Linked DNA regions of Homo sapiens. The protein of the gene in region 1 interacts with the protein of each later gene in a biochemical or structural test. Each region holds a gene or a part of one and is shown in the gene's direction. Other genes may lie near its edges.

The links. Proteins that work in one complex are often made in the same cells at the same time.
Region 2: the proteins of AMOT (region 1) and NF2 form a complex in vitro, tested with the Homo sapiens proteins (2 studies listed by BioGRID and IntAct).
Region 3: of the proteins of AMOT (region 1) and LATS2, one has a biochemical effect on the other in vitro, tested with the Homo sapiens proteins (3 studies listed by BioGRID).

What each region holds. Positions count from the first base shown.
Region 1 is NC_000023.11:112,774,810-112,781,833, reverse strand, and holds the end of AMOT (angiomotin), read left to right. Parts: intron 1-715; coding exon 716-948; intron 949-1,045; exon of another isoform or gene 1,046-1,116; intron 1,117-2,153; coding exon 2,154-2,837; intron 2,838-3,169; coding exon 3,170-3,267; 3' UTR 3,268-6,957; downstream 6,958-7,024.
Region 2 is NC_000022.11:29,676,609-29,683,632, forward strand, and holds part of NF2 (merlin), read left to right. Parts: intron 1-1,587; coding exon 1,588-1,715; intron 1,716-4,830; coding exon 4,831-4,993; intron 4,994-6,411; coding exon of another isoform or gene 6,412-6,447; exon of another isoform or gene 6,448-7,024. UniProt on the Homo sapiens protein: Probable regulator of the Hippo/SWH (Sav/Wts/Hpo) signaling pathway, a signaling pathway that plays a pivotal role in tumor suppression by restricting proliferation and promoting apoptosis.
Region 3 is NC_000013.11:21,058,587-21,066,591, reverse strand, and holds the start of LATS2 (serine/threonine-protein kinase LATS2), read left to right. Parts: upstream 1-5,005; 5' UTR 5,006-5,246; intron 5,247-6,186; exon of another isoform or gene 6,187-6,462; intron 6,463-8,005. UniProt on the Homo sapiens protein: Negative regulator of YAP1 in the Hippo signaling pathway that plays a pivotal role in organ size control and tumor suppression by restricting proliferation and promoting apoptosis.

The sequences.
Region 1 (7,024 bases):
ATTTACTTACTACCTGCAGGTTGTCGCTCATTCATAGATCTCATCTTCTCACTGAGTAAATTGTTTCCATTGACTGAGATTCTTCACTACAGCACCTAGTACATCAGTTCATTCTCTCATATTCAGCCTTTTTTTTCACTGGTACTTTATTGTGACTTACTAAGATTTAAGCAACAGCTCCTGGATGCTCTGCTGTATCCATTTGGGTGTGCAGAAAAAAGAAAAAACATGTTTTAAAAACTGTAGCACACCATCCCTTGTTTTCCAACTCAGAACTAACTAGATCAGCCTTTAGTCGAAAAGATAATGGGAGCTCCACGTAGTCATGTAGTCAATTAGACCAAAATGTGGAGGTAGCAAGAAGGTTTTTTTTTTTTTTTTTTTTTTTTTGAGATGGAGTCAGTCTTGCTCTGTCACCCAGGCTGGAGTGCAGTGGCACTATCTTGGCTCACTGCAACCTCCGCCTCCCAAGTTAAAGTGATTCTCCTGCCTCGGCCTCCCGAGTAGCTGGGACTATAGGCGCCTGCCACCACACCCAGCTAATTTTTGTGTTTTTAGTAGAGACAGGGTTTCACCATGTTGGCCAGGCTGGTCTCGAACTCCTGACTTTGCAATCCGCCCACCTCGGCCTCCCAAAATGCTGGGATTACAGGCGTAAGCCACCGCGCCCAGCCCACAACAAGGTCTTTATATGTTCTTTGCCTTTGGCTCCTAGGATTAAGACCCTCCATGCCCAGATTATTGAGAAGGATGCCATGATCAAAGTACTCCAGCAGCGTTCCCGGAAGGAGCCGAGCAAGACAGAGCAGCTGTCGTGCATGCGGCCAGCGAAGTCTCTGATGTCCATTTCCAATGCTGGATCAGGCTTGCTCTCCCACTCATCCACCCTGACTGGCTCCCCCATCATGGAAGAAAAGCGAGACGACAAGAGCTGGAAGGGGAGCCTAGGTAATGACAGTAAATAAGGAAGATTATAGTCACGTGTTCAAAGAGAGCCCTGAGATAAGCACCCATGCTTAAGGAAAAGGGATGATGGTCCAGGTTCTAGAGAGGAAGGTGTACCAGGGTTTTGGAGTTTTTTTTTCCTCCTGAGACCCTAGTTCCACATTCTGGAGCTCCTCCACACTTTGAAGTCTCCCGGTGAGAATACCGATTGAGGCCAAGGCTTAGAGGACAAGAATCTTGAGTTTCATTTGGGTGTCAAGGAAGATAACTCTAATTTCCTCTAAACTATTCTCAGATTTGGCCTTTGCCATGTGGCACCTTTATCTTTCTCCAAAGCCCATGTGGCCTTTGTGTCGTTCCAAATGTCAAAATTCCGGCATTTCTGTGTTCCTTCCTCCTCTATAATAGGAGAACCCAGAGTTTTAGTTACACTAAATCGTTTGGGTAGCAGGTTTTGTTCCCACAGTGTTGTGAGATGAGAACAGAATGTACTTTTTCATTCCGTTCCTGTCCATTCCCTCCCCTCTAATCAAAACCCCAGACATATTGTGGATACCACGAGGCACATTTTTAGAGCCCGAGGAAGGAAGCTTATATATATTTTTATTTTAACCCTTTTTGTTGCTGTTAATTCCTTTCTTGGTCCTCTGATACTTGTAATATCTTTTGGTTAGAATAAGCATTTTGGGGACTATGGTCATGGTGAGAACCTCAGATCACACAATTATTACCACACTCAATCTGTGTCAACAGACTTCTTCCCCAGATCCTTTCTTGCTCCCTGGTAACGTGTGGTAATGGTTTATAAGTGGAGCCGAGTAGGAGCATTCTGACAACTTGGTGGAACCCAATCACCATTGGAAAAATAAATCAAAACAGATACCCAGGTCACTTACAGGCTTAATATGTTGTGCCAGGTGATGGATGAGGACCAGAAGGGATCCTCGAAGTCTGTAGGAAACTTTTAGCCATGGTTGGAGGAGCCTCACACACTGATTTCTGGGTTCCCTGGAGGCAAAAATAAATAACTTAGACTATTCTAAATTATTTAATATTTAAAAATAATAATATTTTAAATATTTAAATAATATTTACTTATTTAAAAATAAATAAATTTCTTCTGAAATTTGAATGGGAGAACAGGTAATTAGATGTCTGGATTTGAATCACCTATTGTTTTCTAACATCTGTTCCTCTTTCATTTGTAGGCATTCTCCTGGGTGGAGACTACCGTGCTGAATATGTCCCTTCCACACCCTCGCCTGTGCCACCCTCGACTCCCCTGCTCTCGGCTCACTCCAAGACAGGCAGCCGAGACTGCAGTACCCAAACTGAACGTGGGACGGAATCGAACAAAACTGCAGCTGTTGCTCCCATCTCTGTTCCTGCTCCAGTTGCTGCTGCCGCCACTGCTGCCGCCATCACTGCCACTGCTGCCACCATCACCACCACCATGGTAGCTGCTGCTCCAGTTGCTGTTGCTGCTGCTGCTGCTCCAGCTGCTGCTGCTGCCCCGTCTCCAGCCACTGCCGCTGCTACTGCTGCTGCTGTTTCTCCAGCTGCTGCTGGTCAGATTCCAGCTGCTGCCTCTGTTGCCTCAGCTGCTGCCGTTGCTCCTTCTGCTGCTGCTGCTGCTGCTGTTCAGGTTGCTCCAGCTGCTCCGGCTCCAGTTCCAGCTCCGGCTCTGGTTCCGGTTCCAGCTCCAGCAGCGGCTCAGGCTTCTGCTCCTGCTCAGACTCAGGCACCAACTTCAGCTCCGGCTGTGGCTCCAACTCCAGCTCCAACTCCAACTCCAGCTGTGGCTCAGGCTGAGGTTCCTGCAAGTCCAGCTACCGGTCCTGGACCACATCGTTTGTCTATACCAAGTTTGACCTGCAATCCAGACAAAACAGGTAATTATTCCCTTTAGCAGGTAGGTTTTGGTTTAGTTCTGCTCTCAAATACAGATTTATTTCTTGTTGTCTGATGTCTGGGCAGAGTTATCATTTGGACTGAGTTTTTCACGTTCTAAAGGAGAGAGAAGAGAGTCTGTAAATGACTTCTCATCCACCAAGATGGGAACAGGCATGAGTAGAGGCCATTATCTTAGCAGAAGTAAATGAGGGAGGTGGCAGGCAAGTCTCACTTTGCCATTGGCTTCATGAGGGCTCTGATGGTGTCTGGTTCTAGAAATATGGGTTTTTTCTTCATCCCTAAGTGTTTTCTAACCCTTATTTCCATTTAGATGGGCCTGTGTTCCACTCCAATACTCTGGAAAGAAAAACTCCCATTCAGATCCTGGGACAAGAGCCTGATGCAGAGATGGTGGAATATCTCATCTAAACGGCCAAATCAAGAGCTGCAGATTATCAGCAAAAATGCTTTTAATCATTTTCCCCCTTTTATTGGTTCTTGTTTTGAGGGTGAGGACAAGGGTTGTGGGGAGGGGATGTTTTTTAACAGGACTTTTTATTGGAACAATGTACTACTTGAGTAATACCATGTGAACACCAGTCTATTTTGGTATGCTTAGGGAGTACCTCTAAAGACAGATTAATCAGAATGTGCTCTAAAGCTTATTGTTTGAATTTATACGAATACTGGGACTGTTAACAGGTGGCTATACATCGACGTTTTCAATGTGCTTAAATTTGTTTAAATTTTCCATATTCTAGATCATTTTTTATTGAAGAGCACAGTATGTGTGGAAGACAGTGTATAACACGTAGTTTGGAAGTGGGAAGCTAGAGAGAATTGAGTGTGTGCTGTTTTGTATAGTTACTATCCTGTGCAGCAGCTGGAGAAAGCACTCACCTCAGGCTTACAAAAGGGAATAGTTTCAGGAGCTATGTAAGCTGGAAAAAAGGTAGGGAGTTTTGGGGTGCAGAAGGGTACTGGAGCTAATTTTTTCTTCCAGTTTCCCAGCTACCCTGCCCCAGGGAATTGTGTTTGTCTTCATTTCAGTGGTGCTTTGGAAATGGATTCTTTTGGTTCCCTCCTGGAGGTTCATACATTCATATATATGCTCTGGAGTAATTTATGCATTTGGATAATTAATATATTGCTTTCAGATGCTGGGAGAGTACATTAACTGAGTGATGCGCAACTTCCTCTCTCTTAGGGAATTAGACCATCAGAGGCCTTGATGGAGAGTTGCATGGGGTGCTATATGCAGACTTCCATGGTTTGTGTGTAGCCATGAACACAGCTTGCTTGCATTTAGTAAGACCAATCAGCTTAGTGTTTATTTCTTCTACAGCACAGATTCACTGGCTGGGTCTCCAGTCTCAAATTGCCAATCATTTGCAAAGTGAGGAAGGATCTTTGTTGACAGGTTGAATGCTTTGAATTTCTGGTGACTACTTTGAAATAACTTGTTTTGTTTGTCAAATTCTAAGCATATGTCTTAAAAGGCATTTTTGACTATCACCTCCAAGGGAATAGCTTGAGAAACCCAAAGTACTATGCTGCAGTCGGGGGAGAGGTGGATTGCAGCAGTATCCTCAACTACCTCTTCTCACTGTCAGTGACACCATCTTGGAATACCTTTGGGAAGCAGCAGGAAATGTGCATGTGGGTAGAGATCAAAGGAGGCAATGGCTCCAAGCCTTGCCATAGGGCTGCCTCCAAGGACACAGAAGGATGCCAGTTGCCACAGGTCCCTGCCCTGTGTCACCTGTCTGCCCTTCATTAAGGTGAGAAATCTGCAGATAGCATCATTAAGATCAGTTTTAAGGGGTATAGGGAGGGTGAGGGAAGTGGGGGGTGTTAGGTAAGGGTTGGGGGTAGAGGTTTTGGGATGTCTTAGTTAGAAACCAGATTAATAGAAGAGTAGGCCTGATATATTACATCATGAGCCATAGTGGTGGGAAAGAACTTTAGCAATATAGCCCTACCTCCTCATTTTAGTGATGAGGAATCTGAGAACTGGAGAGGTTCAGTGACTTTTTGAAAGTCATACAACACAGCTAACCATTATGCCAATCACCATGCTTATTTTGGGAAACTCTTTATCTTTTTTAAATTCCATTTTATGAAAAGGCATCTTCATGGTCCAGGGAATATGTATCTTGTAAAATGTACCTGGTTGGAGTAGCTTGTCCAGTCTTGACAAACTACTGAATTTCTGTCTTGCCTCTCCTTCAGTGCCTTTTAAAAGGTTTTCCCTTTTCTGATCTGCATTTCAACATAGAGTCACATAAATGTCCCCCTGAGAAACCAATCCCACTTCTTTCTAGGAGATTGGGTATCTTAGATAATCTTTTGGGGTTCCTCTGTGAGTATAGGAATGGTATCCTTCCTAATTATCTTCCAAAGGAATTATTTTGTGTGTGTGCCTGTGTGTGTGTAGAGACATAAAGGAGGGTGATGTGATTTTCAGCTAGTCCTTTCACATTTTCAATAATGAGGTAATCATGTTACATACACATTAGTCCTCAGTTATAAAGTGAATCTCAGATAGAAATTAAAAGTGCAGTTGTGTTAAGACTCTTTCATACTACCCTTTAGTCATAAGGAGAAAAAAACACTCAAATAGTAGAAGCAGCAAGTAGCAAACTTCAGGAGAGCTACTTTCTATCCAAATAATTTAAAAAACACTTTTCACCTACTCCTTTCATGGTTATAACACATTGGCAGACTTTTTGCTGGCTCTGGGAGCCATGATTTTAATCACATTCTGCAAGGTGACAAATGTCATACATTCCACATTGTGTGGTAGCCATCTCTTTAGACTCATGTGTTTTGGGGAAAGGAAGAAGTTCTTGGCTGAGTACTATTTTGAACTTTCCAGAACCCTCTCACACCAGAGACAGTTCTTCTCTGTTCAGTTTCCAATCCCCGATAATTTGCTAAAATAACATTGTACATCCAAGAGAGGGAAGAAGAGTATGTCAGTATATTATGCAGAAGATAGATACAGCCTTTTCAGAAGATCTCCACTAGTTTTTGTTCCAAAAATTCAAGTTTATGGGAGAAATCTCAATTAGCCACCTTTTCACAGTTGTGTGGATATAACATTTGGGGGATCTTTCTGGACTCCTACCTATCTGTGCATTTTACCGGCACCTCAGGAAAGGAGGGTGACCAGGTTGTCTTAGCTTGTACTGCTTGGTGATCTCTGAGGACCTTCTAATTCAGTTGTACCCCAGTGTTCCATGTATAGAAAAACTTCATTAGAACAAACTTTACTTGATATGAAACTCCTATTAACAGTCTTTTTTTGAAATAAAAAGTAGCTTGAGCTTTCTTTTAAAATCATGTATCTTGATTGTTGATTTAATGAAGGATTTCCTTTTAATGCTGCTTTTGAGCTTCAAGGTAATAGGACAGCAGGAACCTAAAATATCTGCCATCATCTGCCATAGGAAAGATACCCAGAGACCCATCATGTTCTCTTTTTGTTGTTACACTGTTGGGTGGGTATAACAATTGGAAAATGAACAAACTGATTGATTGTGCAAACTACTTTTTATGACAAGCCTAAACCCTCATAATGCGGCAGCTTAAAGTGTATACATATGCACTAACTTTGATCAATTATATTCTCATATCTGTTAGCTACACAGTCTCCTATTATCTCAATTGCTTATGTGCATATGGAATATGTTACTTAAAACGTGTGCATTCTTACTGAAAATGTTTTCAAAGGAAGGTATCAGCTGTGGGCTAATTGCCACCAATTTCAGCCTGCCACGATTCTTGGAAATATGTCTTCCAAGTGCCATCCATCATCAGTAGGACAAGTGTCGGGAGTTTGTTTATTTTTTTCCAGTAGCAACGATGGGTTACATGGAGCCATGAAACCTCCTTCTGGCCTCCCTTGTGATTAATGGCATGTGTTTGTAAAATGGATAGCTGGGGTTGGCAGATGGCTAGAGAAGAATCGCCTTTGGTTTAAAATGTATGTGGTCCCCTAATGATTGTGACCCCATTCTGTAATCAACTGAGCTAGTTCCAATAAAGTTAAGCAGGTTTAAATCCACTTTGTGCCTATCTTTTCACTGACAATAAAGTTAGCTATTTTAAAATGCAGTACCGTGTGGAAAATGCTTTGGTGTTTACCCGACAGAGGCTTTATTTGTGCTGTATCAGTGATTAC
Region 2 (7,024 bases), on another chromosome or scaffold:
ATTGTAATTTATTTAACCAGTCCCTCATGGATGAGTATTTAGTCTGTTTTCTTTTGCAATTTTGAACAAAATGACACTGAACATCCCTGAACACAAATCTTGACACACACACGTGGATATATTGGTAGAATAAATTCTTATAATAGAACTGTGGGGTCAAATTTTCGATTTTGATACTCTCCAAAGAAGTCATACCAGTTCATGCTCTCACTAGTGGTGCAGCAACTAGTACGCGTTTTTGCTGAAAATTTTTATGATGTGTAACATACACATAGAGAAGTGCCCAAATTACAACTGTACAGTTTGAAGAATTTTCACAAACTGAACATACCCATGTACCCAGCACCCAGATCAGAAAACAGGACATCCCTGGCACCCAAGGAGCCTTCTCTCAGCACCCTTGCAGACGGTCTGCCTCAGGCCTTGAGAATGTCTCAAATGAATGTTCCAAGCCTCTGCTCTTTCCCAGACACTGTCCTAGACTCAATACGGGATCCAAGGATGAAAAAGAGGCAGATTGTTTGCAGGAAACTTGCAAATAGTAGAAAGAAGATACAGCCAAAAAGAAATCTTTTACAGGGTGGAATCGCAGAAGAACCATTAGAGAACCGTAAACACAGCGTTAAGGGACAGCAAAGAAAAGGGTTGCCGGCTGGCTGGGAGGGGCTAGAAAGGCTTTGGTGAGAGATCGTGGTGTTTGAGAAGGGCCTTGAAAGAGGGATGGAGCATAGGGAGGAGAAATGGGATAGGCAGGGGTACAGAGATGGGAAGGCAGTAGTCCAGGGGATAATAAACAATACTGTCTGTGACTTAGTAGGGCAAATAGTAGGAGAAGCCGGGAAGCTAGATTGGGGTCCTCTTTAGATGACCCTTTGTGCTGGGATGAAAGTCCAAAAAAAAAAAAAACTACACCACCCCTGCTTCAGGCCCTACTCCGGTTCCATTGTCCAAGCCCAAGCCCCTCGGTGGGCCGGTGGGGAGCCCTTTGTGGTGGTGCCCATCTCCCACCCCACCTCTCCACACTGCATGGCAGACTCCTGGCACCCTCACTGGGCACTGCCCCACCCATTGCCATACTTCCCGTCCGGCAGACCTTCTCCTGGCACTGCCTTGGATCCCAGCAAAAGCAGCATCTCTTCTAGCCTCTGTTCGCTCCCTGGCTACAGTGTTTACCTTTTTTAACAGTGATGATCTGTGAACACATCTATTTCCTGAACAAGACTTTCAGCTGCTCAAAGCCAAGGATGCTGTCTTGTTTTCTGCATCTCCAGCCCCTTGCACAGGGCCTGGGAGTTTCCTAAATGAAAAAGCGAGTGGGAGTTTGTGTTTGATTCAGCTGAGCATGAAGAACGGTTAGAGATTTGAGGGATGATTTTCCTGGATTTGTAGTCTTTGATATTGTTTACCTGGCAGTGGCAAATGTGGAGGGAGTGAAGTGGAGGGATGGGGACTCGTGGTGGCATTGGGAGGTGGGACCCGAGTTGTGCCCATTGCCTCTGTGGCTGCTGGAGGATCGGTTGTCAACACAGTAGTGTCCTTCTGTGCTTGTATGACCCAAGCTCCTAATCCGAAATTTCTCATTAACAGCCCATGAACCCAATTCCAGCACCGTTGCCTCCTGACATACCAAGCTTCAACCTCATTGGTGACAGCCTGTCTTTCGACTTCAAAGATACTGACATGAAGCGGCTTTCCATGGAGATAGAGAAAGAAAAGTATGTAGCCCCCTGTGCCCTGCTGTGGGCAGCTGTGAACTAGACTGAGTGATTGGGGCCTTGGGAAGCTGGGGCAGAGGTGAGAGGTCGCTGCAGCAGCCTGTCATTACTCCTGCAAAGGTTTGCTCTGCTCTTACACCCTGGAGGAAGAATTTCCTTAATCAGAAATTAAGGACAACAGATCAGCATTCATTCTGAACGAATAAAAATAACAATTTTTATCCAGGATAAAAATAACACTTGACTGGTGAGCTGGAGTTTTTGGTGGCTCTAAGCCTCACCTAAAGTGTAGGACTGGGTTGTTAGCATCTCTGAGTCAGTTCAACTGCTGTTATACTACTGGACTGTAGTCACCTCCTAGTTGTGTTCTCCAGCAACTGGGATCTGTGGTGGTTCCCATGTCTAGAACAAACAAAGGTGAGAGAAGAGACTCAGGCTCGAGGCTAAGGAAAGCTGACAGCTGGTGGGGCCACTTTGCTGCAGTGGGTGGCACTGGGCAGGGCCCCAGCATGGCCTGATCATGGCAGCAATTGCTGAGCTGCCCTCCGTCTTCCCTTTATTGTGGGTAGAAGTGGATCAGAGATGGAAAGGAAAGGATCCCCACTGCAGAGGAAATCTAAGCGAGGGCCCCTAGTTCCCAGAGCTAGCGGTAAGTTGGTTAACTGCTGCTGCTTGCTAGAGGACAACCACAGTAGCTACCATGCATTGAGTGCCTGTGTGTCAGGGGTTTTGGCTTTTGTCTCATTTAATTCCTGCTAACTTACAAACATCAAAATGACATCAAAGGTAGGTTTTCATGTTCCCATTTTATAAGTGAGAACTCAGATTTAGAGAGTTTAGTGAACTCCACCAGCATCCCACAGCTGATGCAGAGGGGTTGAAACCCCTCACCCATCTGACTCTGCAGCCCATGTGCTTTTACCATGGGTGGTATCCTCAGGAAAACCCTTTGGGGAAAGTGTCTCCATGGAGTCCAGTATGGGCAACCAGAACCCAGGCTGTTTTTCTTTGGGCTCTCACACTGAGGGTATAGCTAAGTAGCCAATGAACCAGAGCCTCTAGCTGTCATATCTGCTGTCCATGTTCCTTTCACCATTATCCAGACATATACATTTATGTGGTTGGGATCCGGGATCAGGGTGAAGCTGTTCTGTGTCTGCTATTTTATAGTTTGTATTTTGTTACTATCTTAGTTTGTTTTGGCTACTGTAACAAAATACCAGAGGCTGGGTAGCTTATAAACAACAGAAATTTATTTCTTGGCCAGGCACAGTGGCTCATGCCTGTAATTCCAGCACTTTGGGAGTCCAAGGGGGGCAGATCTCTTGAGCCAGGAGTTCAAGACCAGCCTGGGCAACATGGCAAAACCCCATTTCTACTAAGAATACAAAAATTAGCTGGGTGTGGTGGCACATGCCTGTGGTCCCAGCTACTCGGGAGGCTGAGGTGGGAGGATTGCTTGAGCCTGGGAGGCAGAGGTTGCAGTGAGCCCAGATTGCACCACTGCACTCCAGCCTGGGCAACAGAGAGACACCCTGTCTCAAAAAAAAAAAAAAGAAAAGAAAGAAATTGATTTCTCACAGTTTGGGAGGCTGAGAAGGCCAAGATCAAGGCACGGGCAGAGGTGGAGTCTAGTGAGGGCATTCTTGCTGGTTCATAATCAGCCCCTTTTTGCTGCATGCTCACCCAGTGGAAGGGATGAGGGGTCTCTCTGGAGTCTCTTTTATAAGGGCACTAATCCCATTCATGAGGCTCTACCCTCATGACTGCCCAAAGGCCCCACCTCCTGACACTTTTTTTTTTTTTGAGATGGAGTCTCACTCCATCGCCCAGGCTGGAGTGCAGTGGTGCGATCTCGGCTCACTGTAACCTCCACCTCCTGGGTGCAAGCGATTCTCCTGCCTCAGCCTCCTGAGTAGCTGGGATTACAGGCGCATGCTATCACGCCCAGCTAACTTTTGTATTTTTAGTAGAGATGGGGTTTCACCATGTTGGTCAGGCTGGTCTCGAACTCCTGACCTCATGATCCGCCCACCTTGGCCTCCCAAAGTGTTGGGATTACAGGCGTGAGCCACCACACCCAGCCGGTGATTAGGTTTCCACATATGAATTTTGAAGACACGAACATTCAGACCATAGCACTTCTTACCCTTGCACATATTGGCAGAGTCTCTATACTAACCATGGCAATCCCTATGGAGTGTTTTTGGTATTTGTATTGCATGGTTTTTCTGGCCATGCCTTGTAGTTGGACACTTTGTGGGTGGTTTCCAGATTTTCACCATCATAGATGCTGTCACTCAGTGTTATCTGTTCTCAGGTGAGGGTGGGGATCTTTTCTTCCTTGCGTTGGGTGAGCTTCTGAGTGAGCTTCTGTCATCTTTAGATGAAGTCTCAGAACAAGTGGGAATGTGGATGTGGCCTATCAAAAGAGATCACGTGAAGCTGGGCGCTGTGGCTTATGCCTATAATCCCAGCCCTTTGAGACCAGGGGTTCAAAGCCAGCCTGGGCAGCATAGCAAGATCCTATAAAAAAAAAAAAGAGTTTACTTGAATTACTGCTCCAAGAAGGGTTGAGACAAGGAGATTGTTCTGGGTTCCCAGGAAGCTTGTTTCACGTATGTTTTTTTTTTGTACAGAACGAAAAGCTGTCCATGAGAGCTGGTATTTGTAGAGCCCCCTATGAGAATTTACCAAGGGCTTTTCTACTCTTTCTTTTTCTTTCCTTTTCTTTTTTTTTTTTTAAAAATAGAGACAGGGTCTTGCTATGTTTCCCAAGCTGGTCTCCAACTCCTGGGCTCAAGCAATCCTCCTGCCTCAGCCACCCAAAGTACTGGGATTACAGGTGGAGCCACCGTGCCTGGCCTCCTACACTGTTTTATTTAATCCTAACCACGGCCCTGTGATCATTATCCCAATTTTAATGATGAGGAAACATTCATAGCATTTAAGTGACCAGCCCAAGCTCCCATGGCCTGTGAGTGGCCAAGTAGAGACGTGAACCCCAGGCCTCAAACCCTAGATCGCACACCAAGCAGCTTGTGGGCCGCAGAGCACCTGAGCCGTGTCTCACTGTCTGCCCAAGCCCTGATGCATGATACCCTCTTGCCGGCAGAGTGGAATACATGGAAAAGAGCAAGCATCTGCAGGAGCAGCTCAATGAACTCAAGACAGAAATCGAGGCCTTGAAACTGAAAGAGAGGGAGACAGCTCTGGATATTCTGCACAATGAGAACTCCGACAGGGGTGGCAGCAGCAAGCACAATACCATTAAAAAGGTACCCAGGGTCTCTTTCTTGTATTTTGCTGATCAGGACCATCATTAATGAAATGTGCGGTTGGCATCTGGTTTCCTCAGTAGCCAAGTCACTAGACTATTGGCATCTTTTGTATGTACTTAGTTGAGGAAATTTTTTAACTTATGCCAGAAAGGGAATTTAATCTGCCAATGACTATGAACCCATTGGCTGGATGGAAGTTGAGCTTGTGTTAAAAGCTCTGATGTAATGAACCCCTGTTACAGGGTGGATTTTGAGCCCTCATTTAGCAGTAAAGCATAATGCCCTTTTAAGCCAAGGGGTGTTATACCCAGGGAGCTGCCTTACTTTATGAGAAAGCAGAATGAAATGGAGGCTATTGAGAATGGACTTTCCCTCTAGTCTTGTGGTGTCTTTAAGTGGCAAGGACTATAAAACCAAACTGAATTTTTAACTTTTTTCATACTTAAAAGGAAGTGTCTAGGAAAGAACCTCTTTGTTTTAAAAGAGAAGACTTTATTACTTTGCAAATGGTTTCATATCTTTCTCTACTGGTATTTTGAGCTTTCAGCATTGTCGAGATTCAGAAGCTAAATTCCATACTAATTATCAGCCCAAGAGCATACCTCTCTCATTTGGGCCAAGCAGAAGGGTCCTCTCATACCAAATAATGCTCTGCTCTTAACTGATAGCCCAGGACCAGGTTAACACCTATAAAATAGGTGTTATTAAGATAAGACTGTCCATTGAGTTTAGGTGATACTGATACAGTTAATTTTTTATTCTTTACCTCAGTCTTTAAAATAGGCTTCCAGTTTTATGGACTGTCTCTGTTTTTAGTGGTTAAGCTGTATCTGAAAACTCCAGGGGATCTGTTTCTGCCTGCCTTCGTTGTTGGGTACAGTAGGCAGCCCTGACTTCTACCTCTCGACTCCAGTCACAACTGGCACCGGGTAGAGAATTCCTTTTAATAGTGCAACCTAGAAGGAAAGGCATTTCCACATTCCACATTCTTCTTTCCTCTGGCTTCTGTAATTTACTGGGCTTCCCTTCCAAAACAAAATTATTAAACAGTAAAGGGGAGTTCAAGGGAGGCCTCGGTCATTAAGGAAAGAGGTAAAACGATGGCTGAGCCAGTGAGCCAGTCAGCCCTTAAATGAACTGCCTCAGACACCCCATCTCACCCCTTACCCCCAGCCTTGTCATCTGGGTCCCAGGAACAGTCTCACCATTTCCACTGCTGCTGCAATGAGCAGTGCCCTCAGCCACAGAAACCTGCAGTGTGAGAGCTGGAGAGACCCCGTTCCAAGCCATTAAAACAAACAAAATCACTCATCACGATTTCAGGCCTATCCAAGCATTTTGCAGATGGCACTTATGGCATTGTTGATATCACAGGGTATGTTTTTGTTTTTCTTCATTTTATTTTGCTGGTTTAGCCTCAAGCCCAAGGCAGAAGACCTATCTGCATTTGAGCCCTCAAAGTAGGTTGTTCCCAGGTACTCTCTATGTGGTGATGGTGCTGCCCTCTGTGATACTAACCCGTGCATGAGCTTGCCTGTCTCTGTCCTCGGGCCACACTGAGCCCTTACGAGGGCAGGTGGTGCCTGGGTACTGGCCGCAGCATGCTTTGAGTCTAAAAGTAGGCACCCACCCTGTGAAGCCAGACCAGCCTCCAGGGCCCCAGAAGACTGCCTCGTTCCGAAGAGCATGTCATGGGGCTGTAGGACCAGCCATTCTTCCCATCTCGGGTCATTGTTGGGCTGGGGAAGGTTATGGCTTCTTGTCCAGTCAGGTGTGTCTAAAAGTCCTTTGTCTTGGTGGCATACTCCTAGCATGGAAATGGGGTCAATCTGGGCACTTTGGAGACTGGTGTGTTTAACTCAAGATCAAGACCTTTTATGCGTTGACAGCCTCTCAAGACCCATGGTCACACCTGGCAGCTTCTGGTAGTGGGGCAAAAGGGTTGCTTGTGCTGGCTCATTTTCCTTTAGAGCTTTCCCTTTCTGCACACATCCCTTTTCTTTTCAAATAAAGCAAACCCAGAGCACA
Region 3 (8,005 bases), on another chromosome or scaffold:
AAAATGTTCTTTACATATGGTTTTTGGGGGAGAATATCTTCTCTGTTCTTAAGGAATGCATAATTTAGTTAAGGACATAAACTACTGTATATGGATATAAAACGACTCTAAAACAAATGAAACAAGTCGATGTTCCGTTTTCTTCTCGGTTGTCTGGGTCTTGCATGATCTGATCCTATTCTATTTTTATGCTACTGCCCATAGAGAACATTCTTCTGTAGTTAGGCAGATTTTATTTTATTTTATTTTGAGATAGAGTCTGGCTCTGTCGCCCAGGCTGGAGTGCAGTGGCGCCATTTCGGCTCACTGCAACCTCCACTTCCTGGGCTCAAGCGATTCTCGTGCCTCAGTCTCCTGAGTAGCTGGGATTACAGGCATGTACCCCCATGCCTGGTTAATTTTTGTATTTTTAGTAGAGAAAGGGTTCCGCTACGTTGGCCAGGCTGGTCTAGAACTCCTGGCTTCAAGGGATCCGCCCGCCTCGGCCTCCCAAAGTGCTGGGATTACAGGTGTGAGCCACCGTACCCAGCCATAGTTGATATTCTATAGGAGCCTTAGGGAGAGAACCCCTACACTATCCTGGCTTCACAACTGCAGAGGCCTCACAAGCAAGTGGATTCTCTGTGTCTGCTAGGCCTGGAATCGTTCTCTGCTTTGGTTGAGGCTGGAGACACAAGTCTCTGAGTTCCCCTCTTCCTCACTCCACAAAGTCCATTCCCCTTTCAGAGGAAGTATAAGGGAGTAATTTGTTTTCAGTTTCCTTACTTATGAGTATGTTGTAATCATGTGCCTTTTTTTTTACTTTTTTTTTGAGATGAAGTCTTGCTCTGTTGTCCAGGCTAGAGTGCAGTGGCTTGGTCTCCACTCACTGCAACCTCCACCTTCTGGGTTCAAGCAATTCTCCTACCTCAGCCTCCCGAGTAGCTGGGATTACAGGTGCCTGCCACCACGCCCAGCTAATTTTTGTATTTTTAGTAGAGACAGGGTTTCACCATTTTGGCCAGGCTAGTCCCGAACTCCTGACCTCATGATCCACCAGCCTCAGCTTCCCAAAGTGCTGGGATTACAGGCGTGAGCCACCATGCCCAGCCTCATGACTTCTTGAGATTATCTAGAGAGGGCATTATAATTCAGTGTTTCCAATCTCTGGAGTTAGATCTATGAAGGTCTGAATCTCTGCTCTTTGATCTTGGACAAGTTACTTGAGCCGTCTGCATTTCAGGATCCTTTTTTATAAAATGGGTTGAATAACATGGTCGTTTTGAGAATTAAATGATATAATATACAAATTTAGAGCAATACTTGGTATAGAATAAGGACACACACATACACATATGTATATACTATGTCAGTTAATTTATACACTCCAATTTTGTTACTACTGTCCGCTCTATGCTCAGCTGGTCTTGTGTTGTCTCTTTTTCTCCTCTTCTCAGCTAGATACATTATGTAGATGTGCTTATTTAACTGATTAACTTTAAAACATTTTCTGGACCAGGCATGGTGGCTGAAGCCTGTAATCCCAGCACTTTGGGAGGCCAAGGCAGGCAGATCACCTGAGGTCAGGATTTCGAGACCAGCCTGGCCAACATGGTGAAACCCCATCTCTACTAAAAATACAAAAATTAGCCGTGCATGGTGGAGCATGCCTATAATCTCAGCTACTCCAGAGGATGAGGCAGGAGAATTGCTTGAACCCGGGAGATGGAGGTTGCAAGGTTGCAGTGAGCTGATATCTCACCATTGCATTCCAGCCTGGGCGACAGAGCAAGACTCCATCTCAAAAAAAAAAAAAGAAAAAGAAAAAAAGAAAAAAAATTATGTTAACTATCCTACTATAGAAGTATCAGGAAGTATAAGACAAAACCATTCAGAATCACTACACTACATCCAGAGACTACCACTTTTAACATTTGGCTGTGTAATTTTCTGGGCTTTAAAAATAGTTTAAAAAATATACATGTGTACATAGTTTATTGTATATACATATAAAATAAACTTATATTGTTGCTGTTTTTCCTTTCTTTTTTTTGTTTTTAGTAGAGATGGGATCTTACTCTGTTGGCTAGGCTGGTCTCGAACTCCTGGCCTCAAGTGATCCACCCATCTCAGCTTCCCAAAGTGCTGGGATTACAGGCATGAGCCACCATGCCCAGCATGTGTTTTTCTTGAACACCTCTACCTCTACCACACTATAAACCCCATCAGGGGATAAATCTTATGGTTTTGCTTACCATGTTATCCCAAGTATGATTTATTTTAGCACATGGCTCATAGCAGGTACCAATAACAAAACAAAACAGAAACAAAACAAAACAAAAACCCAAACATGGGTTTTTTAATTTTAGCACATGGTTCATAGCAGGTACCGATAACAAAACAGAAAACAAAACAAAAACCCAAACATACAACAACAAACAAAAATGAGAAGGAATGAATGACTGCATGTTAATAAACACAAATCGTTAATCACAACATTCTTCCATGTGAGCGTGTCAGCTTTCCCAACCAAGCCCCTATCTTGGAAACTTGTTTCCAATTTGTCTGTATTCATATATATATATAAAATTTAAAATTTTTAATGTTTTTTAAAAAAGGCACAAAGAATAGTATAGCACACATTATTGAACCCAACCTCCCAGAACCAACAACTTTTAAGATTTTGAGTTTTATTTCCGTTTTTTAAATAAAAGAAAGCATTGTAAAGTTGAAGTCTTCATTTTTTTTCTCTGCTCAATTTCCCTCCTTCCCTCTAATATAAACAACAGCTGTCATGAATTTGGTGTGTGTGATATTGCATTCTATGTCTATACTTATATAAAGTATGTGATCATTTTAGGTTCTGTGGGATTTTGATTATTTATAAATATGGTATCACAGTGTATATATATAGTTCTGCAACTTGCTTTTTTTCACTCCACAGTGCTTTTGAATTCTTTCTACCATCATTTATCCTTTACAACTACAGAGCTAGTTCATTAACTTAGCTACTGTGTATATTCCATCATTTGGATATCTACCTTTCATTTTCCTACCCCTTGACTGGACATTTGGGGTTTTTCTCAATTTTTCACTACTGCAAACAATGCTGAAATGATCATTGTAACTGCAACATTTTTATTAGGTATTTTATGCACAAATTTTAAGGTCCATTAAATCTATTTTATAATATTTTTCATTCCACAAGTGTTTTAAAAATTATTTTTACATCTTTGAAGGCAGAGCAGGAGCAGGATCTTTAAACACACAACAAAAAAAGATTAGCAGCCATGTGGCTTGGGGTTGGGGTGGAGAAAGTATAGTCAGCTTAAGAGTGAAAAGAAGGCCAAGCATGGTGGTGTGCGCCTGTGTTCCCAGCTACCCTAGAGGCTGAGGCAGGAGGATGGCTTGAGCTCAGGAGTTCAAGGCTGATGTGGGCTGCAGTAAGTTATGATTGTGCCACTGCACTCCAGCGTGGGCAATGGAGTGAGACTCTGTCTCTAAGAAAAAAAGGAAAAAATGTGGAAAAGTACATAGGTAATGCCAGTAGGGCTCAATTGCAGAATATTGGCTGGAGACTTATTTTGCTCCCAGTACTGTGCAAGATATCTGGGTAGCATACAGGATACTATCGAAAAATTAAATTGAATTCTAAGCTGCACGATGATGGTTTCTTTTTTTTTTTTTTGCACACTTCTGCTGGCAGGAAGGGATTACGGTTTGATTATCAGAGCCCAAAGAAGAGAGAAAACAGAGATCTGAGAAGATTCCCTGGAAGAGCTGAGGCCTTAAGAGATTGAAAGAGAGGGAGGGGAGGAGGATGAACCAGGGACTGAAGGCTGGGTGAGACTGTCAAAATAGTGCACAGATAATGACCTTTACTACTGTTTCCCATGAGAGTAAAATTTAAAAATTTCACAAGAGTTTGTCAATTAAAGAGGAAATCGAGTTGACTTTAAACACTATATTGACCCTCAGCATCACTTGCCACAGATATAGGTGGTAGGAAGTATGATGTTAGGAGAGCCAGAAGTAGACTGAGGATTTGGCTTCCAGTCTATTATTTCTACTGTGAATCTTTGCACCATCCCTGCTTCTGTCCCTGTACCAGATCCACAGTCCTCAAATGGATAGTGAAGCTGTTCAAAACCCACGACCTCACTTGCTGGTATATACGGTACTATACTATTCCCTACACCATAAAATACTTCTCAGAAAGAAAATATACATGGGGAGGGGAGGTTGATTAAATTAAATCAGGTTAAATTTGGGTGTGCATCAGACGTTCTTTTTTTTTTTTTTTTGAGACGGAGTTTTGCTCTTCTTGCCTAGGCTGGAGTGCAATGATGCGATCTCAGGTCACCGCAACCTCCGCCTCCCGGGTTCCAGTGATTCTCTTGCCTCAGCCTCCCGAAGAGCTGGGATTACAGGCATGAGCCACCACGCCTGGCTAATTTTGTATTTTTAATAGAGACGGGGGTTTCTCCAAGTTGGTCAGGCTGGTCTCGAACTCCCGACCTCAGGTGATCCACCCGCCTAGACCTCTCAAAGTGCTGGGATTACAGGCGTGAGCCACCGCTTCTGGCAAACGTCCTTCTTAATTGTTTGATTCCACTGTCCCAATAGCCGTCTGTCCTTTTCTGCCCCTATTTTTAGTGTCCAGCCACTAGTTGGTAACTTGGTGGCTCCTTCAGGCCTGCTAACTTTTTTTTTTCTTTCACCAAGACTGGTATGAGATACTTAAGAATAGTGGCTTTAACGACAGTTACCAACTTTTAATACAAATGCAGTCGAGAGGGCAAATACTCAAGTTTGGGGGCAGATAGCAGCCAGTCAAATAGGTCCGAGAGGCCCTGGCGAGCTACCGCAGGCCAGCAGGGAGGCCGTGGGCAGGTGGCGGTCGAGGCCGGAGGCAGGAAGCACGGCCGGGCGGGGCTGGGCGGAGCGGCCGCGGAGGAGCAGGGGCCGCAGGCGCCCCGCCCGGACTGGTATGCGGCCGAGAGTGACGCGGGAGGCGGGGTCACGTGACGCCCGTGGAATGCCAACAATGTAGCGAATGTCCCACTTGGGTCTGCGCTTTGGAACCGCGGCGTGAGCGCCCCGGGAAGATGGAGCAGTCGCCGTCCACGCCACCGCCGCCGCCCGGGGCTCCCCCGTCCCTGCGGGGCCAGCAGCAGCTCCAGCCACCAGTGCCCGGTCTCCCGGCGCGAGAGGCCCGGGAGCCGCCGGCCAGGACGCCCCCGAGGGTGTAGACCGCGCCCCTGGAGGTGAGGGGGCTGGGAGCTGGGGTCGGGGCGGCAGCTCGGAGGGTGGCGAGAGTTTCCGCGAAGCGGTCGAGCCCTGCGGCTCCGCGCACCTACTGTGGTGCCGAGGCTCCGGGAAGGGCGCCCGGCGGGGCGGCCGAGGAAGTTTGTCCGGACGGAGCCCTGCGCCCTGCCCCCACGGTCCGCGCCCGCCCGGAGCCGCCCCCGCCCGGCGGCTCGTAGTCCAGGCCGTACGGAGCCCGCGGAGCCGGTTCCAGAGGAGCCGGGGAAGTTGGAGGCCGGCGTCGGGCGGGGGCAGCGGGGCTGCGCCGCTTTGTTGTGCGGCGACCGGGGCGGCCGGGATCCCGGCGGGGCAGGGGCGGCGCGGGCCGGGGGCGGTGTCCTAGACCCGAAAGGCCGTAGCGCCGGGCGCGCCTCTGCTTCCGCTGTCTCCGGGGGATCGGCTTTTCACTAGACGCCCGGCCGGGCGCCCCTGACAGCCTCGGGACCCCCGGTCCGGCGGCGCAGCGGTCCCACGGATCCGGGGCCATCCTCCCGGCCGCGCCATCGTCCCACGGGCCAATCAGTCCTTCAGAGCCCGCCCTGTTGGCCCCCGCCGGCCGCCCCGTCGTCCCGCGAGCCGACGGACCCACGGCGGTGCCGCAGTCGAGGCCGCGCCGCCCCTCAGCCCCCGGTGGCTGCGCCGCCTCACCCACTGCCGCGCGGTTCCCACCCCGTTCCCCGCGGCCGCGCCGCCGGCTCACGGGCCAGTCAGCCCCTCAGAGGCCACCGGACCCTGGGGGCGCCGTTCCTCCCGGGCTGCGGGCGGCCAGGCCCTGCTCGGCGTCTCCCGGCCGGCTGCCGCGCCAACTCTGCGAGTTTGCTCACGGTCTTGGCGGGACGCGGCCCGAGGCGCAGGAGCGCTTTCGTGGCCACGCGAACGGCGGCCGTTGCATAACACGCCATTCCCGTGCCCTAGTTTAGCGACGTGTGGGGGGTTTGGCTTTCTCTTCTGATGTAAGCTCACCTGCGCTTAGCTCCCCAGCCGGACTCTGGAGATGGGGATTCTGACATCATTCACATCTTGCCATCACATCCTTCAGCCCAACTCCAGAACTTCTGGGGAGCTTTCCCTCGGGGATGGAGTGCGGCCTGGAGCAAACCCGTTTGTGAAATGCAAGTCTCCAGTGTCCCGAGGGTTGGGAACGGGGGGCGAGGCGAGGAATGGACCCTGAAGAAGGTAAAACCCACCCGACCAGGGCGCCAAGCAGCCGGTAACAGGGTCCCGAGTTAGCTCGGCGGCTGGCGGCTGTTCTGAGGCCTTTGGATGAGAAATGCTATTTTGCGAGGATCACCATGAAAGAACTTAACTTGCAGATTTTTTTGACAAAAATGTTGTTATTTTAAGACAAGATCTCGCTCTGTCTCCCAGGCTGGAGGGGAGTGGCGCGATCTCGGCTCACTGCAACCTCCGTCTCCCAGGTTCGAGCGATTCTCCTGCCTTAGCCTCCCACGTAGCTGGGATTACAGGCCCGCGCCACCAGCCCAGCTAATTTTGTATTTTTTAGTAGAGACGGGTTTCGCCGTGTTGGCCAGGCTGGCTCTCGAACTCCTGACCTCAGGTGATCCACCTGCCTCCGTCTCCCAGAGTGCTGGGATTACAGGCGTGAGCCACCGCGCCCCACCTGACAAGAATTTTGAACAAGAACTTTTACATTTTCACGCTTCTCTAGGATGGATATGAGTGTTTTTTGTTGTTGTTGTTGTTGTTTTTTGAGACGTTGTCTTGCTCTGTCGCCCAGGCTGGAGTGCAGTGGCGCGATCTCGGCTCACTGCAACCTCGCCTCCTGGGTTCAAGCGATCTCCTACCTCAGTCTCCCGAGTAGCTGGAATTACAGGCGTGTGCCACCACGCCCGGCTAATTTTTTGTATTTTTAGTAGAGACGGGGTTTCGCTGTATTAGCCAGGATGGTCTCAATCTCCTGACCTTGTGATCCGCCCGCCTCAGCCTCCCAAACTGCTGGGATTACAGGCGTAAGCCACCGCACCCAGCCAAGAGTGTTTTTAATGTAATAGCATTAAAAAAATTATTTCACCTTAACTACTAAGCCATAGAGTATACATTTGGCCGGTAAAAAATTCAAATTAATAGCTGAACAGCTCTTTTCACAAAGTATTCAACAAATACGTACATTTTTAAAGGAAAGTTTGCCCGTATTTTAATAAGAAACAAATATACTGAAATTTGAATGGGAAATCACAAAAATGTGTGTGATCTTGCACAAGTGTTTTGCTTAAAATTTTAACTTAGAAGATGAGGGGCCTTCCCTTAATCATGGAAAAAGTAACTCATGGCTGATTATTAGGAAATTTGTGCTAAATCTTGTTGTATATTTTTGGTAAGCTGCTTTGTATGTTTTTTTTTTTTCTGTAACAACCGTTGTAATAAGGTAGTAACAGAAAAAATATTCCAAAATGAGAACGTATAAACTGTTTATGACGTCTATTTAACTGTAATTAACAAGTCAGTGTCTCACAAAATTTTGTCTCATGCAGGTATAGAAGGCACTGAATATAATAATAGTGTAATGAATATACCAGCATTCCTTTGAATATAAGTTGGTGAACATTTAATAACTTTCCAAATCTCAGGCAGTTTAAGGTATCTGAGCAGAGGCTAGCCTGTCTTGCAAAATTACCAAGGTGAATTACTAGAATCATTGAATTATAGAACTGGAAGGGATTCTTCTGGCTTCTCCATCGAGTTTGAAATAGTTTAAGTG